2 separate regions of the Homo sapiens genome follow, and region 1 is linked to region 2. The links come from fine-mapping of genetic effects on gene expression. A gene starts in region 2. The other region holds a variant in brackets. All regions are shown on one strand. Distances are between the middles of the regions.

Region 1 (8,731 bases), 240 kb after region 2:
GATTTTCCCACGCAGGTGACAAGGTGGTTTATGTACTATTTAAGGGCGGAAGGTGCGTGCCCGTTCAATAAGCATGTTTTTTGCCAGGTAGGAAATATGTTCCATATCTTTACTTATCATTGCATTTCAGATGGGAACTAGAAAAACTGGAGAGAAAAATGTAATGAAACTGCTGCTGTAAATTATTCCTTTTAGCATGTATTCACTTGCTAAATACACATTTCTTCAAAATATTTGAATTCAGATGTCTTTACTGTTCCCTATAACATATGGTGTTAAGGAACATAAGCTCATAAAATGTTGAGAACCAGAGTCAGGTTGCTACATAATTAGCTAACAGATTTCTTCATTGTAGTCATCTGTAAACTGGGTTCTATATTTATGGTGATGATGTGAATTTTTATGCCCTTTAAATTAAGTATTGTTCTTTTTAATGTCATACCTAAAAAGGAAATGTAGGGATAAATTTTTATAATGTGTCATTTTCATAATCAGTTTGGTTTTATTCAGGATCCACAAAGATGTCAGATGACTGTTATTGAAATTGCTTATCTTAAAGGTCACAGACAAGCATTTTATTAATATGGAGCCACTAGTATAATATGTTAAAATCTTTGTTTTATTAGCTCATTTTAAAACACAATTTCCATTCAATTTAATGAAACTGTATCAGGTTTCATGGTTTCAAAGACAGACTTAAATAGGATTCAACACCCCCGTATCGTGTAATAACATGTTAAACTGGTCTAACACCAAGGACATCTATACTTTTAACTTGATTTGTAATAATTATTTGAAGTCAATGTTAATGTTTGCAAATACATGTTTCCATAAAGAAGAAAACATTATTTTTCAAAAATCTGTAAAATCTCATTAGTTTGTTTGATCTCTAAAAATTTTCTTAAACTAGTTAATTAAATGAACATAATTTTTCAAGTTAATAAATTAAGAAAATATCTAAATGAAAGAGAGAATAAAATCAGCATATGTGACAGCCCATATAGTAAGGACAGTTTCGCAATCAACGTAACCAAGGAAAACAGCTTTGTTATCATTTCAAACATGCAGGCACACACAGGCAGAGGCAAAGCTGGAACCAAACCAAACAAAAAGAAGATTTTGAATATTAAAAAACTGGGCCTCTAGACACTTTGCCTTTTAGAACCAGCTTCCTACACGTTCAAGTAAATTCCACTGATAGATCTTGACTATCTACAATGTGCTAGGTATTATGTTAGGTGATGAGGACACTAAAGTGAATAAGACATAACCCTTGTTCTCAAAGAGCTCACAATGAAATTAAGGAAACAGAGCGAGATGACTTATCATCATCTAATCCAGCAAGTCTTTCCTAATCCTCCCATCCCTAGTTCAAGCTAGGGACCTTCTCTATGCTAAACCTGTGCCTTGTATATACCTTTTATTGTCACACTACCCCAATGTGTGATTTATTTGTTTATGTTTCCATCTCCATTTCTAGACTGTGAGCTCCTTGAGGGCAGGATTTGTATCTAATTGATCTCTGTCCCCAGTGTCTAGCATGATGCCTGGCACAAAGAGGGAGCCCAATAAATCACTGTTGAAAAGAACCAAGTTACGATATGACAATTGCCAAATACAAGCTCACAATAAGAGCGGTATGGATCAAAGAAAAAAAAAAGGAGGAATTAACTTGTGGAGAGAGATCATGGGGTGCTTCAGAGAATAAGTGACTTTCCAGCTGTGAATCAGTCAGATATGCCTAGATGAAGAAACAAAATGGCAATCTGAGTAGAAGAAATAAGGAGAAAGGAGGAGAGGTGTGAAAAAAAGTCCTTTTTCTGAGAACAAGCATTCAAACAGATAAAACACAGGTTTCATAAAGAAAAGTTAAATGTCCCACTACTATGAGTCAAAATGGTGCATTTGCTTTTTCCTGGGTTTTGATTTATTGCCCTCTGTTTGTACCCCACATTCGCATCCTTGGCACAGACTGTCATATGTCACACATTCAGCCTCCTACACTTCCACCCCACAATCTCTTTACCTTCCTTCTTAATGTTCACCTCATTTATCTTTACTCAGCTAAAGTCATAGCACTAGACAGTGTTCCCACAACCGTCTTCAAACTCATCTGTATTTCATAATCTCTCCTCTAGTTCAAACCAGCACAGGTCAGCTGAAACTCTGAATTCTACAAATAAATATTTAGAGGAAGCTAACTTCATCAGACACTCCCCTATGCTCTCAGTTCAAACGAAAGTTTCTGTTACATTTCACCTACCTACAGCCTTACCTCACTCAGCTAGCATTAGACTACTCAGCAATGAGTTCCAACATTGCCTTGCTAAAAAGCAAGGTGGCTCACAAACAAGACTTCAGCAAAGATAGCATTAAAATGTGAAGTCTGCATTTGTTCAAGGCATACCTTAGATGGAGTAATTCATGGCCAAGCAATGCTGCAGGTGTGGTCAGCACATGTAGTTGATAGGCAGACTCCTATTATTTTAAACAAACAAACCAAAAAAGTTTTTTAAAAAATGAGACCCACCTTCATCTTGAATATGTCAACCCCGCACCACCGTTGTATTAATCTGTCATGTTTTTCTCATATAACAAAAGAATGGATTTTCTTTCTTTTAATCTAAACACTATACTTGTATATACAATGTTTATTTATATAGGACCTAAGCAAAAGTTTTTATAGATGTGTTCATGTCATCACAATTCAGGTAATGTGAAGGCTCAACTTCCGTCTTCTCTCTTTGTAAATCTCACTGAAGCATTAGATCTCAAGTAAATACATTTGTAAAATATCCATGTCATTTGTGTAGCTCAGTTCTTAATGTTTTGTTTGTTTTGTTGATAACTAATTCCAGAGAAGCTTAAACATTTTTAGACAAAGTTTTCATCTAAAATCAAACAGCCACATCAGGAATTTTTTAAATACACCACAATTTTTAGGGATTTTCATCCTTCAAAAAAGATTGACAGTTTTATTAGCCCTCAAATATTTGTATTTTACTCATGCAGTATTTTAAATTGCTGATAAATGTGAAAAACTCAGTTTAAGTCTGGGTCTGTGTATGCCATTCAATATATTCCATTTAAATTTAGATACTGATGAATAATGGTCTAGCTAAGTATCCAATTTGCATTGTTGCCATCTACTAATTTCAGAATCATTGCTCATTTTCTTCCTTGCAGAACTTTTGACCCTAATAGCATGCCTGTTGAAATTATTTTTATTGTATTTGCCTTCAGAAGTGGTTTGAATTATTACCCAATGAATATTAGCATCACAAAAATAATCTGTTATCCATATGGAAAAGAATACTGTCAAGGAGTTTATTGAATTCTTTAAATATTTACTCAAAACATAAGAGAATACTTATCCCAGGATTATTCTATTTTGATCAAAACAATTATGTAGTCATTAGTCATTAACTTTAGAAACATTACATTGTTTGGGTTTCTTCTTTAACTTCCTGACCCCTCTAGAATCCAAAACAAAAACAAACAAACAAAAAATCAACAAGTACTCTAGATGGCAAAATCACTTATCATTCAAAAGGTAGCATGTCCTCTTCCCCTCAGTGAAGATTGGAATGTAATTTGCAACTGTGACCATACTGGTCTTCTTCTTCTAATCTCCTCTTGGTCCTGAGACAATGTTTCTAAAAATTATGTCATATCAGGAAGCTCTATATTCATTATTGAGAAGTAATATTCTTGAACTTCTAGAAGGAAATATTTATATAATTTATAAAATGTATATCAATAAGCCCAAAGCAGAAACTCTTTGTAATACACTGCACTGTATTAATTTTAATTCAATAATATAATATTAAATAAAAACATAAGCAGACGTATGGAAGCATTAATACATCCTAAACTGCTAAAGTTACTGCCTGGTGCTAGTAACGTTACATTTTTTATATTCATTGTGTTTTTAGATATTATATTCACTACGTATTTTTATATTAATTGTGTTTTTAGATATTATAGTCTAAATATTTTTATGATATCACGTGGGCCTTTTCATATGAAGTAGGACACACAGCCTGAGGATCTGGCACAACATACTGTACTTGAGTTTTCTATGGTGAGTGAGAATTAGCCTTTGACTTTGAGAAACTCACAATCTATTGAAGAACAGGAAACACAACATTTAACATGATGTGTCATACAATGGATATAGTAATAGTCGTAGTAGTCATATTAGTAATGATAGTAATATCAAGTGTTTACAACATACTGTTTTCTTTATCAAGTGCTTTATTTGTATTACTTTAATTATTAAAACAACTCAAAAAATCCTATTTTATCCTTATTATATCAATAAAGAAACTGAAGTACAGAGTGGTTGAATAACTAACTGCTCAATTCACATGATCAAAAGCGATAGACATAAAGTTCTAATTCAAGTATGATTTACGATTACCTGTGTTTCCAGAAAGATAACTAGTTAATGTAAATATAATTTAAGATGCCATGCTGTATGGAAATAGAGAAAAAGGATGTCAAAGACTCTTAGAAAATGAAGAAGAGAATGGTGAATGAGTTGACCTAGAAATAAGGGAACATCTCTTTCACTAAGAGAGGAGAGACAATCAAATAGGAAATCAGCAGCACAGTTAAAAACAGGTTTTGGAGACCTGCAAACCTGGGTTGAATACCTGCTATACCCATGTACTTAGTGGTGTCTTTGAGTATTGATTTATTTCTACTTCTCTGGGCCTCAGTTCTCCCCTGTATAAGATTTTAATATATCAGTTCTTCCATCTATATGAGATAAATGATAGAAAACGTATTCACAGAATTGGGGTAATAGTTAACATTGACATATAATGTTTACTGCTAACACTAATTATTTACTCACTTTTCTTGATTTCCGTCCTGATAATGATGAGAACATGATGTTCTTTCTCATTTCCAAATAAAATGTTTTT[T/G]ATTATATCTATTACCACCTTCTGTAGATCTTTAGCCCTCTACTTTCTGTCATTAATTTCTCTTGCTTCCCATTTTAAAGTAGTAGTTGTACAAAATAGCAATAATCTCCCTTGGCCATGTCTTTCATGTGAGCACTTTTCTACATCTTACCTTTGCCCATAAAAATTTGCAAAAGAAATTCTAAATGACTCCTAATCAAAGATAACAGATGTTTGACTTTTTATTCTCTAAAAAAACACTACATTAAGATATCAGCACTTTTAATTTCCAACCATGTTAACTTTTCATTGCAAATTTTGGGGCTACTGTCTGCCATCATGATCTCTAAGAATGCATTTTAGAGTAAATTAGTCAATTTTTTTTTTTTTTTTTTGAGATGGAGTCTCACTCTGTCGCCCAGGCTGGAGTGCAGTGGCAAGATCTTGGCTTACTGTAAGCTCCGCCTCCCGGGTTCGCGCCATTCTCCTGCCTCAGACTCCCGAGTAGCTGGGACTACAGGTGCCCGCCACCACGCCGGGCTAATTTTTTGTATTTTTAGTAGAGACGGGGGTTCACCGTGTTAGCCATGATGGTCTCGATCTCCTGACCTCGTGATCTGCCCGCCTCGGCCTCCCAAAGTGCTGGGATTACAGGCGTGAGCCACCGCGCCCGGCCAATTATTTTTTACTAAGTAATCACCTGTTTAATTCTTTTAATATACAGTTTTCAAAGTTAGCATTTTCCAGCTCGAAAAGGAGACAGTTTTCTATGCATTACCTAATAAAATGTCTTCCAGAAGACAAAATGATTATTTTTATATAGACTCAATGAAATAAACTATATGATATTAAGCGTGTTTTCATATATGAAAAGGTTTGAGACACAGTCTAAGCAATTGCAAGTGCTGATGAACTTTCAAAAATAAAATCAAACTTAAAAAATATATATTGCTGAAAAAATTCTATGTATTGTAATAATATATAATTCACAGGAAGACAATGTGAGCAGAGGCATTTATTCATGGTCTCTAAAGAACACATGAAAAGACCACTACCATAATTCACACCTAAAAAGATGATAATTTATGCAAAATCATTCCCTTTAAAAAGTAGAGATGAAAAGAGACGTGACACCTCAAAACCCTGCCAAGCTAGGGATAAACATAAGAAATAAACCATATGTGTTGTGGGAGGCAAATCCACAAAGAAACTGTTAGGCAAAAATAAAACCAAACTATGACATGATCCAGATGTTCACTAATATAAAGGCCTCAGCAAAATCTGATGGACTTCAAGGTCTGGTAGGAAAGGATAAAAGTTCCAAAAGTTCCAAATGTGTGAACACTGATTGGCTTCAATTATTTGGTAATCTTTTTTAAATAATTGCTTTTGTTTGAAGTATTGTCGTCTTTAAGCTTTAACTATTTTGGAAATTGATAAAAAGCAGCACAAAAAGATGAAACAAAAGTGCAGGCTTTGAAGTACAATCATTTTGTTCATAGTAACTTCAAGAGACCATTTGGGCTGGCCCCCAGAAAAGACAATTGTATACATTAGAGTTTAGACAATCTGGAAGGGAGAAAAAGGGTAAGGCCTGTACACAAATATTTTATACTGTCCATAACTTGAAAGAGAATTAATTAAAAAACCCAATAGGCTATACTAAGTGTGTATAAATATAGTCATGGTAGATAGCACTGAGTATAATTTTCAGATAAAATTTGAACTAAGATTTCTTTTATGCATTGAGTACAGATGCACCATTTATACATATCTAGTTCTAGGCATATCTAAATTTCTGAGTGCTTCTTAGCAGTCGTCTTATGTTTAAATGTCTTTCATTGAATACAACACAGTTCAGTTTATATACTCAACTTTCATTTATTAGTCACATGATGCTAAAATATTTAATACAATATTAGGAGATTGAATTGGAAAGTGCTCAAAAACTTTAGAAAATGAAGACATAATGAGCCAGAAAAATCTCAATGCTGGGAGGGTTGAAAGAGAGAATAGGGGCTCAAAAAAGCAAGGAAAGAAAATGCATTGATTTTAAAAGGAAGTAACAGCATAAAAAGAACAAAGATATCATCTCTTTTATTAACAGTGCAAATGCTTGGGTTACTGTCTTGTTCCTTTTTTATCCTTATGCAGATCCTAATCTTATGTGCTATTGATCTCTCTTTAGATTGTCTAACATGGGTAACCATCCACTAAGTCCAGCATACTCAAAACATGTGACCAAAGTGTGGAATATGGACATTTCTGTCACCTGGGAGTTCATGAGAAATACGGATACATAAGACCCACACGAGACCTACAGAATCAAAATCAACATTTTAGTCAATTCGCAGGTGATTTGTGTGCACAACAATGCTTGAGCCCAGTGCTTTTAACTCCCAGGCCACAGTGTGGTACCAGTCCATGGCCTGTTAGGAATGGGCCACACAGTAGGAGGTGAGTGATGGAGGAGCCAGCATTACCACCTGAGCTCCATCTCCTGTCAGATTAGCAGTGGCACTGGATTCTCATAGGAGCATGGACCCTGCTGAGAACTGTGGATGCCAGGGATCCAGGTTGGGTGCTCACTGTTGGAACCTAACTAATGCCTGATGATCTGAGGTGGAAGAGTTTCATCCCGAAATCATTCCCAACACCCCCGTCTGTGGAAAAACTGTCTTCCACAAAACCAGTCCCTGATGCCAAAAGGTTGGAAACCACTGCTTAATTGAGTGATTCATACAAATTTGTATCTCACTCTTTCAGGGGCACAAATTTGGAGTGTTCTTACCCAATGATTTGTCAGGATTTCACTGGCCCAGTGGCTCCACTCAGGCTTTCTCCTGTCTGAGTTCTAAGAAGGCTTACCTGCTTCCAAGGTTTGCTGGCCTTAGGGGTGAGGATCAGATACTAAGATGTAAGGGCCCTAAAACATCAGGTTAAAATTACTTAGTGTGCTGATGAAAATATTAAATATTTCAGAGTTGCCGTGATGAAAGTCATTAGAAAGTATTTGTGTTCTAAGTAATATTTACTCAGCAATGATATAGGGTAAATTGGGGGTAGGAGAATTTCTACTCCTACTATTTCTACTATTCTGCTTTTCTTCTTCTTCTCCTTGTTCTTCTTCTTATTATTATTACTATTATTATTATTATTGAGACAGGGTCTGTCACCCAGGCTGGAGTGCAGTGGCGCCATCATGGCTGACTGCAGCCTCAACCTCCCCGGGCTCTGGTGATCCTCCCATCTCAGCCTCACGAATAGCTGGAACTACAGACAATGCCACCACATGCCCAGCTCATTTTTGTAGTTTTTGTAGAAATGGGGTTTCACCATGTTGGCCAGGCTGGTCTCTAACTCCTTCACTCAAGTGATCCGCCGGCCTCGGCCTCCCAAAGTGTTGTGATTATAGGCATGAGCCACTGCACCTGGCCCCTATTTAGCTTTTCAAAAGTAATGCATCCCTTATAAAAAAAATTGGTAAGAAAAGAATATGCAACACCTCAACTACAGAAATATTTTTATCCAGCTGACAACATCCTTCAGAGAGTCAGTGCATTGCAATGTAATGGTATTACTTTATAGATAATGTTATCTTCTCATTTCTTTTAGGCTTTCAGTGTAATGAAAGTACACATTTTTCTGAATTATTACAGTATTGGGCTTCATGAAGTTTGGCGGCAGTGAGAGTTGTTTGATTTCTCAAAAACTTTTTCCAGTAATTTTCATAGTATTTGTATTCTATGAAGGAAATATAGTAACTTAAATACTTCCTATAAATAGAAATACTCAAGTTACCCACTGAAAGACCTTTTAAA
Region 2 (8,731 bases):
GGAGGGGTGGGAGAGTCAAAGGGAGAGGGAAGAGTTAATGCTTCCCTACAGATTGAATTCTCTTTGCATTTTATCAATTCCTTCTCTCAACTCATGCTTTCACATGTTGCTTATACTGAAAGCATTCATAAGGGTCAGATTCTAAAAAGTTTAACTTAATTTCTTAAACATTGCTTTTAACCTGCCACCCCCGGTTTCCAGCAACAACTACAGTAGTTCCTAAATCACTATCATTTTTGGCTAGAATGAATAATACATCAACTATTTATTTTCTCCAATTAATAGAGTGTCTTCTGATCGTCTAAAGAATTTTTTCACCCACAGAATTCTTTTTTAGAAAAAAGAAAGGTTCAAATTTCTTGTATAGAAAAACCTTCATTAAAAATGAATTTCCAACATCAGAAGTCAGAGCAAGGCAAATGTTTGAGTATGACATTTGCTGAAATTCTGTTGATTGTAAGCCTTTCTCAAATACTAATGAAGCGTTCCTTGAAGAAAAAAAAAAACGGAAATAACAGATGTTGATTGAGAAACAATATGTTTTTTACATGTCTCAATTGAAAAACACCTTGCCAAGAATACTAAAATTTGTGTTTTTAGTACTGGTTTCCTCTTTGGTGTTATTTCTTAGAAGAACAGATTAACTAACTCATTTAAAAATTCCCAACTTAGTAATTTCCTTTAAAGAGGTCATCTGCTTCTGAGGGTGGCACACTTTTGGGGATTTCCTGTATCTGATCACAATGAAATGGGTATGGAAGGTGATTTGCAGAAAGAGGTGAGGTTATTTAATCAAGTGCATCCTAACTTCAGGTACATTTTGTCCACTAAATCTTTGAAATACATCTAAAACACAATTTCTCCTTATATTCTTTTCTGGACAAATACAGCTAGTATTTCTACCTAACCATTCACAGAGAGATTCAGGGTATGTATAACCAAGGAAAGTACTTAGACGGCTATCTCACAAATTAGGAAACAGCGCTGCTCTTAAATTACAGTGTTTATTATTATCCAAATTTGTTTCAATAATAGCAAAATATAGAGAGGGAACATTTTAAAATTAGACACATTGGTTTCATCCAATACCTGAAAAGATAAAAAATACATAGCCAATGTGTAAATACTTTAATACGTATCTTCTATGACTACAGAGGTCTTTACTGAAAAACAAGTTAACTAACCTGTTGTGAAATGGGAAGTGTTGATCCTCTAGAAAATCAAGCACACCATCCAGAAAGTTGCCACTGTCAAAAATTTTAGCACTCTTTCCCAGTACAGAGGGAGGTGAGGTTAAAAACTACTGATCTATTTGACAGAAAAGTATACAACAGCATGATCATCCTATTAAGCACCTGCTGAAATGTAACTCCACGGCAGGAGTTAATCATATTTGAAAGCTCGAATTGTTAGAACATATTAGACACTCAATTACAAATACAGTTACATATAGTACACTATGTAAATTGTGGGTTAGAAAATAATTGAAAATAGGCTACTTAGAGGAAGAAATAAATAAGAATATTTCACTTATACCTTAAATAAAATTCAATGTTAAAAGGCCAATATAAGGCCGGGCACAGTGGCTCATGCCTGTAATCCCAGCACTTTGGGAGGCTGAGGTGGGTGGATCATTTGAGTTCAGGAGTTTGAGACCAACCTGGCCAGCCTGACCAACATGGTGAAACCCTGTCTCTACTAAAAATACAATTAGCTGGCTGTGGTGGCAGTTGCCTGTAATCCCAGCTACTCGGGAGGCTGAGGCAGGAGAATTACTTGAAACCAGGAGGTGGAGGTTGCGGTGAGTCGAGATCGTGCCACTGCACTCCAGCCTGGGCAACAAGAGCAAAACTCCGTCTCCACAAAAAATAAAATAAAAAAATAAAAAAAGGCCAATATAATATTTGTGACTTTTAAAAAGTAGTAAGTGATACAGTAAAATAAAATCAATGGTTATGGTGTATGGTGTCAAATACAGTAAGTTTTCTAATTTCAGAATTTAGGCCACAGATTCTCAGAGTAAGGAGTGATCTGGCCGGGCTCGGGGGCTCACGCCTGTAATCCTACCACTATGGGAGGCGGAGGCCGGCAGATTGCCTGAGTTCAGGAGTTTGAGAACAGCCTGGGCAACACGGTGAAACTCCGTCTCTACTAAAATACAAAAAATTAGCTGGGCGTGGCGGCGTGTGCCTGTAGTCCCAGCTACTCGGGAGGCTGAGACGGGAGAATTACTTGAACCCGGGAGGCCGAGGTTGCAGTAAGCCGAGATCGCGCCACTGCACTCCAGCCTGGGGGACGGAGCGAGACTCCGTCTCAAAAAAAAAAAAAAAAAAAAAAAAAAAGAGTGATCTTTGGAGGAGTGGATTAAAATCTGCATTGTACACATGCAGCCAGATTCCGATAGATTCTGACACCGCCCATCCAGGTCCACCCATACCTTGCTTCTACTTTAGTTGAGAAATAAGTTGAAGTTTGATTATCCTCAGGTATTTGGGGATATTAAGAAAAAAAAAGTTAAACAATTTTATTCAACTCTGAGCAAAGTCGAATGAGAAGGCAGTAGAAATATAATATTCCAAATGCTTTTGTGAGTGTTTTTCAGGCATTTACTTTCTTCTTTCATTTTTTATTTAACATTTGAATTATCTGTGTGTGGCCAGACATTTCTAGTATTTTATAATTTAATCAGTCTAGGACAGTTAGTTTGCCTGAAGAATATACTATTTTTACATTTCTTAAATAAAAAATCTGCAGAAAAGCAAATATAAATGCAAACCTATGAAACTTTTAAACATCTGGAAAAACAGGAAGATCATAAATAATTTGGAGGATAAGAAAAATATCAAATATAAATAATCATATCATAGTTTATAAAAAATCGTGTGTATATGGAGGTGTCTGTGCTACCAACTTCCATGTGTCAACATTAATTTAAATTATTCATTTTATGAAATGAAATAACTTTGTCCTGATTTTGTGGTTCAAAATCCAGATTTTATGTTTTTCTTCCCCCATGGAGCCATTTTTGACCCTCTTTTATCTAAATTTACTTACAGCCTTTTGTTTTATTTGGAGCATATAAAAATGTTTTAGGATTAGACATTACACAGGTGAAATGGATACACTTATAAATTTTATTATCCTGTTTAGTTTTGACAAAAACTTGCTCTTCTATTCTAGAAAACAAGAGTAAAAATATAAATATATTTTAAGACATATAAAATATATACTAATGAAAATGGTAAAACTACTTAAAGCATTTAAACTAATTATATGTGAGATTTCAATAGGATAATTCATTAGTCCAATCCTTGAAATAATCCCAAAGCGACATGAATTCCTCTGCAGAATGAATGTCTATAGAGAGTAATCCATGGAAGACAGACAAGCCTCTTGTCATTTGTAGCCTTAATCCATTGCCTAGAGCGTGAAAGTGCCTAGTATAACAAGTGTGGGAATCAGTAAAATCAACATTATTTTTGGATTTTATTTTCTTAACAATACTGGCTGATCAATAGGCTTGAGGAAACTGACAAATACAATAAGATCTGTTTGATGAGTCAATCTAGTGAAGTAGAGAGAGAATTCCTACTCCCTTTTCCCCATTCTCCCCCTCTTTAAATCCTCCTCTTCCTCCTTCTCCACCTACATTCACACAAGCCACACATCCAACGGCAGAGAGGGAGAGACAGAGAGAGAGAGAGAGAGAGAGAGAGAGAAAGCAGAGCGAGCGAGCGCTGTGCTTTCTCTATTGGTCTGTGGACATTAAGTAATGAAAGCTGTAGTGACAATGCTTAGATCATTTTCTTAAGAATACTAAGCCACTTTCAGTAGGTGTTTATGTTTTTAATTGTGAGACTCACTCTCTCCCTTCAGCCAAGAAGTTTCCCTACTATTGAAGTTGAGTCTCTGGATTCCAAGTGCTGTTCTGGAGGTGGGGGGTGGGGAGTGGTGGTAGGAGGGGGTAGGGCAGAATCATTTGGGGAATAAAGGAGAGAAAGTTCTGTCCTGTTAACTTTTTTATACATCCCCTAAAGATTCTTGTAAAAATATCAGCTTTGAGGAAAACTGAATGAAAAATAAGAGAGAAAATTGAGAGGCCACAGCCAACTACTTGTTTCAGAAGGAACTAATGGTGTTCATATGACTGCCTGAATACATGCCTATACGTCCCACAGAAAATTTAGTAACCCTTCAGCAGCTCATGAAGACACAGAGATATTCTTTTCATGTTACTCCTTGACACTCAGCAGGGACTTTTGTGAACTTTGTCATCTTCCGCTGCCCTTTAAACCAAAACTAGGGAAGTGTCTTTAATTAATGAGATGTGATGCATTGAAAATGTTAGCCAGAGCATTCCAGAAGCTGGAAAACCATAGACGTTTTTAAATTCTGAGTATCCTTTTGAGAATCCCCCGTTGTAATTTATAATTCTCAAAGGACCTATATTTGTCTTGAACTGATTGTTGGAATGGGCTTTAGTAGGAATTTCTTCCCTGAAATTGCAGTGGGACAGAGGAAGGGGGTGGTTGAGCCCAGGGGGTTTGTTGGGAGGAGGGAATGATCTCTAACAAGGCTTTAAAACCTTCAGTGGTTAAAGTTGTATTGATGAGGATATATAGACACACACACACACACACACACACACACGCACACATACAATGCACAAGTTCAGCAGGATTGTATAATGAGCATGAATTGTAAATTTTGTAGGTAGCAGAATTCAGATTTTTAAAATCAAAATTGCACCCAAAAATGGCTATAAAACAACGCTTGCCTTGGGAAGTAAATTTATAGCTACATGCCTTTCACAGGCACGCCTGAGGGTTCTGCTCCCGGCTCTAATCTCTACGAGATGTTTTTTGCATGTGTTGTGTGACAGGAGGGAAGGGGAGTAGGTTGAGCTCGCCTGTTCTCCCATTGTCAGCCAGTCTAGTGAGTGTTGGGGAAACCTGTCTGTGGGATCTTGTGTCATCTCCCTCTACATGCGTACAGGAAAAGTCCGCGCTGCTCACGGTTTCTCTCTCTCTCTCTCTCTCTCTCTCTCTTTCTCTCTCTCTCTCTCTCTGTTTCCCTTTCATTCTGCTTCCCCGGAGCCGAATGAAGCAGGGAGCAGGATTAGAGACTGCCACCGGCTATCAGAGGAGCTTAGATAAAAGGAACTGCTTCTTAAGCACCACTGCAGCAGACCTTGTTAATTTTTTTTTTTTTTCTTTCCACACAACAGTTGTGCCTCATTATCCGGTGCCTGGCTCGGAATTTTTTTTTTTTTTTTTCTTTTTGGAGGGTTTGAAGTTTCTGTGCTTCAGTGACTGTTACAGAAGAAGAGGTGTTAGTGTTGCCATGAGGTCTTGATTGTCTGCATTTATGAATGAAACTGACCTAAATCACCTGTTACCTCCAGTTTCCAGATTGTTTGAACTTCTCTGGCCGCACAATACAGGAAGGAAGACTAAAGCAGCAAAGGGACCTACAGCGTCTGCAGCATGGGCTGGTTAACTAGGATTGTCTGTCTTTTCTGGGGAGTATTACTTACAGCAAGAGCAAACTATCAGAATGGGAAGAACAATGTGCCAAGGCTGAAATTATCCTACAAAGGTAAATCTTATTTTTCTTTTATTTGGTTAGCTTTGTAATAACCGCCCCCCCCCTTAATTCCTTGAACTCCCTCCCAACCCCAAATCATCAAACCTTTAGTTTAACCTGGTAAACCGACGTGATTATGTGTATCTTTCTGAGATGCTTTAAACGCTTTTTGTAAAAAGCATGTCTTCTGTTTGATATATGACAACTTAAATGCAAACAAAGAACATTTAATCACATTTGCTGAAAAGAGCTGTATGCCTGGTACACGCTGATCTGTATATCTTATTATCCTATCTTATGCCTGTTAATTTTTCCGACTTTAATTCTATTAAAATATTTTCTTAAAAATAGAAATGCAAAAATGGTCTCTTTGTAGATGTGCATGCCTTACCTATAATTACTATGATGAATTGCATTTTCTTAGTTTTAGACATGAAATGGTTAATCGTCATCATGAATATTCAGTTTGTTCAAATCTGACAATCAGATGCTTAACATAAGCAGTAGATCATGGTTTGCCAAGAGAACATAAACTGGATGGAACAGACTAGTTTTTCCACAGTGCCTTATGATTGTACAAAAGACTGTATTTGGCTAATTGTGTAAAGCTAAAGTCTTTGAAATATTATGTTATTTAATTCTATATGTACTTCAGTGAGAACTGCAGACACATTACTGTCTGCTTGCATAGGTAGTTGTGTAAACTTCTCTTTTGAAAAGTATAAATTAAAGAGAGAAAAAAGAGCTTTATCACTAGTGCTTTATTTGGTTACAATTTAATGTATGTGCTTATTTTTATTGAGGATTTTTTATGTTTGTTCCACATTTGCTTAGATAGGTCTTATAGATAGATGATGTGTAAAGTAATGCTAAAGTAGAGCCCAAAATGATATACATACATTTAGTGGCAGTAAATCTTTCTATAACTCAGGTATTATTAAAATGGAGTTGAAGATTAAACTGTTTTAACTCAAGTAGTTTTACTCCCTAAGGTGTTGATTTCTTATGATTCTCAGATTTCTAAAATTGGGGGTGGAGCAGTGAGAAGCTCTAATTAAGCTTATTTTTTAGCCTATAAGTTAAAATAAAAATTATTGAAGGTATTTGTAGAGATGTCTGTCTACTGTACCTTGCTCTTATGCCACAAAACATATTCTTTAATTCTCATATGATGGGGAACATCTTTTTCTGAATGCCCTAGTGTGAATGAGGATCTCAAATCAGAAGAGAGATGTAATTTTCACACTTTGAATTAGAAAATTAAACACCTAGTAATGTGTTTCTTTGGACTTAGTGCTCGTTAAATGAAATGCATTGAATTAGAATATCTATTTACTTTTTGGTGTAATGTTTTCCTGAGTATCAAGTTGGGAATAGAGACTTAAACATCAACAAACAGAAGTGCAATTGTACTTATGTAAGTTTTAAAAAATCATGTAGCGTTATTTAATTAATTTAGTAACTGTCTTTAAATTATTTCCATAGTATATGATATTATGGTGTCTGTGTTTTTATCAGTTTTGCTTTCTGTTTTCACTCCTTGACAAGGTGACATCAAATAAGTCTAAGTTGATGGTCCACTTTATCCAAGTTTATGTTCCCTATAAGTTTTACATGCAACTTTAGTTCTCAAAGATGTGACTGGCTATTTGTAATACTTTTAGTTTAACAAGTTTAAAATCATGATATATATTTTAAAAATCTGCTAGGCTTGAATATATCTAAGTGCTAAATTCATTTTAAAATAAAATAAAAATAGGGAATTAAACTTTTTTATTTTGCAAGAATTTTATTTCCATGATAATAGGTTACTCTCCATGATAGAGGAGGCACTTGTTCTTTCTGTACATTAAAAATATTACATTTAATTTGAATATCCTTTGTTGTACACATATGCCTTAAACCTATCTGATGAAGCAAGCAGTATATATTAGCAAGGTGTATATATTTGATATTGTCTTTATAAGCCTTGTTTTAGTGATGGCATCCATTAGAATTATTCTGCTTTCCTTTAAGTAAAAAACTGCTTTACAGCTACATAACAATCCCATTGATACACCTAGAGCTTAATAATTTGGTAAAATAAACTGTGAAATGAACAACAGGAAGAAGAATAAAAGGAATGGCCTGAGGAAATTTTTTTCTGTTATTTTATTAATCTGTCATTACCTTTTTGTCTCTACATGTACGTTTGTTTGGCCAAAGCAAGTATGTGGTAGCCAATTGCCAGTACTTTGTTTCTAAAGTACAATAGAGATTTTTTTAAAGCTACTTCTTGTTTCTCCTTAATTAGATGTCAAACACAGTTAAAACATCCACTGCATTGCCCTTAAAAATATTCCAGCATGATTCATGAAGAGTTAAATCCCTGCCAACCTTAATTTCCCATGGTCACTTGTTTTCAAAGATCCACCATTAACTCTCTCATTGCTCAGGTTGCCAAGATGAAGTTTCTGGCAATCACTGTGCTTACTTTCTACTTATCATTTTTGCCTGGTAGGAGATGAAAGAGACTTGACATGTTAAAAAGAAGTAAAAACAGGAAAGTGGCCTTTGTAGCGGGTGTACATATCTAATAAGATACCTCTTTACTTTCTAGGAAAAAGGAATTGAATAGATGTGTTCAGGACCATCTGGAGAAGTGATAATATTAGAAAAATGGGGTATGCTGGCTTTTCCTCTGAACCAATTTGATTTAGAATCCTTATGGGGGAAGAAAATGTGAGAACTCTGTAAATCTCAGCAGTTACATAGAAATTATCCTTAAGAAACATTTACTCAGAAATACTTTTGTCTTCTTTAAATATATGTAATATAGCTAAATGGTAAAATCCTTCTTTTAAAAAGTGGTCCATGCATAAATGTTTATTTCTTCTACAAAACTAGTCAAATTTCACTTTTCTCATGAAATACAGGAAAATCATATAATCTTCCATTTGGGATATGTGATACAATGAAGTCTTCAGAAAAACCTGCATGAATCACAAGAAAATAATTAGGGTTTGGGTTTTAAACAAATGACAAATATTCCATCATCCAATGTAAGGGGCTATTCCAGGACACTATGTGCTTCAGTTTTGGTAGAAATCAAAGACACATGCAAGTCTCAATGTGATGGTGATCCTGTGAATCCAAAGGTTAAATC

Which allele goes with the higher level. Positions count from the first base shown, and alleles are read on the strand shown. Sizes are in standard deviations (SD) of each study's normalised expression.
With allele T in place of G in region 1, the expression in sigmoid colon of the gene that starts at base 5,284 in region 2 is higher (moderate effect, 0.41 SD a copy in GTEx).

The links. PIP is the estimated chance that this variant, and not a neighbour inherited with it, causes the effect. A credible set is the group of variants that fine-mapping cannot tell apart.
Region 1: its variant is the best candidate, but not a certain one, in a credible set for the expression of SEMA3A in sigmoid colon (GTEx, PIP 0.76).

What each region holds. Positions count from the first base shown.
Region 1 is chr7:83,949,845-83,958,575 of GRCh38, reverse strand. It overlaps SEMA3A (semaphorin 3A), which reads left to right. Exons shown (of 17, transcript NM_006080.3): 17 at 1-2,799. Among named protein-coding and RNA genes, the nearest start is that of SEMA3A, 240 kb to the left of the region's middle. The variant T/G (reference allele first, on the strand shown) is at 4,932.
Region 2 is chr7:84,191,342-84,200,072 of GRCh38, reverse strand. SEMA3A (semaphorin 3A) reads left to right here and starts at 5,284. Exons shown (of 17, transcript NM_006080.3): 1 at 5,284-5,598. The coding sequence starts at 5,487. RefSeq lists an enhancer at 4,363-5,170.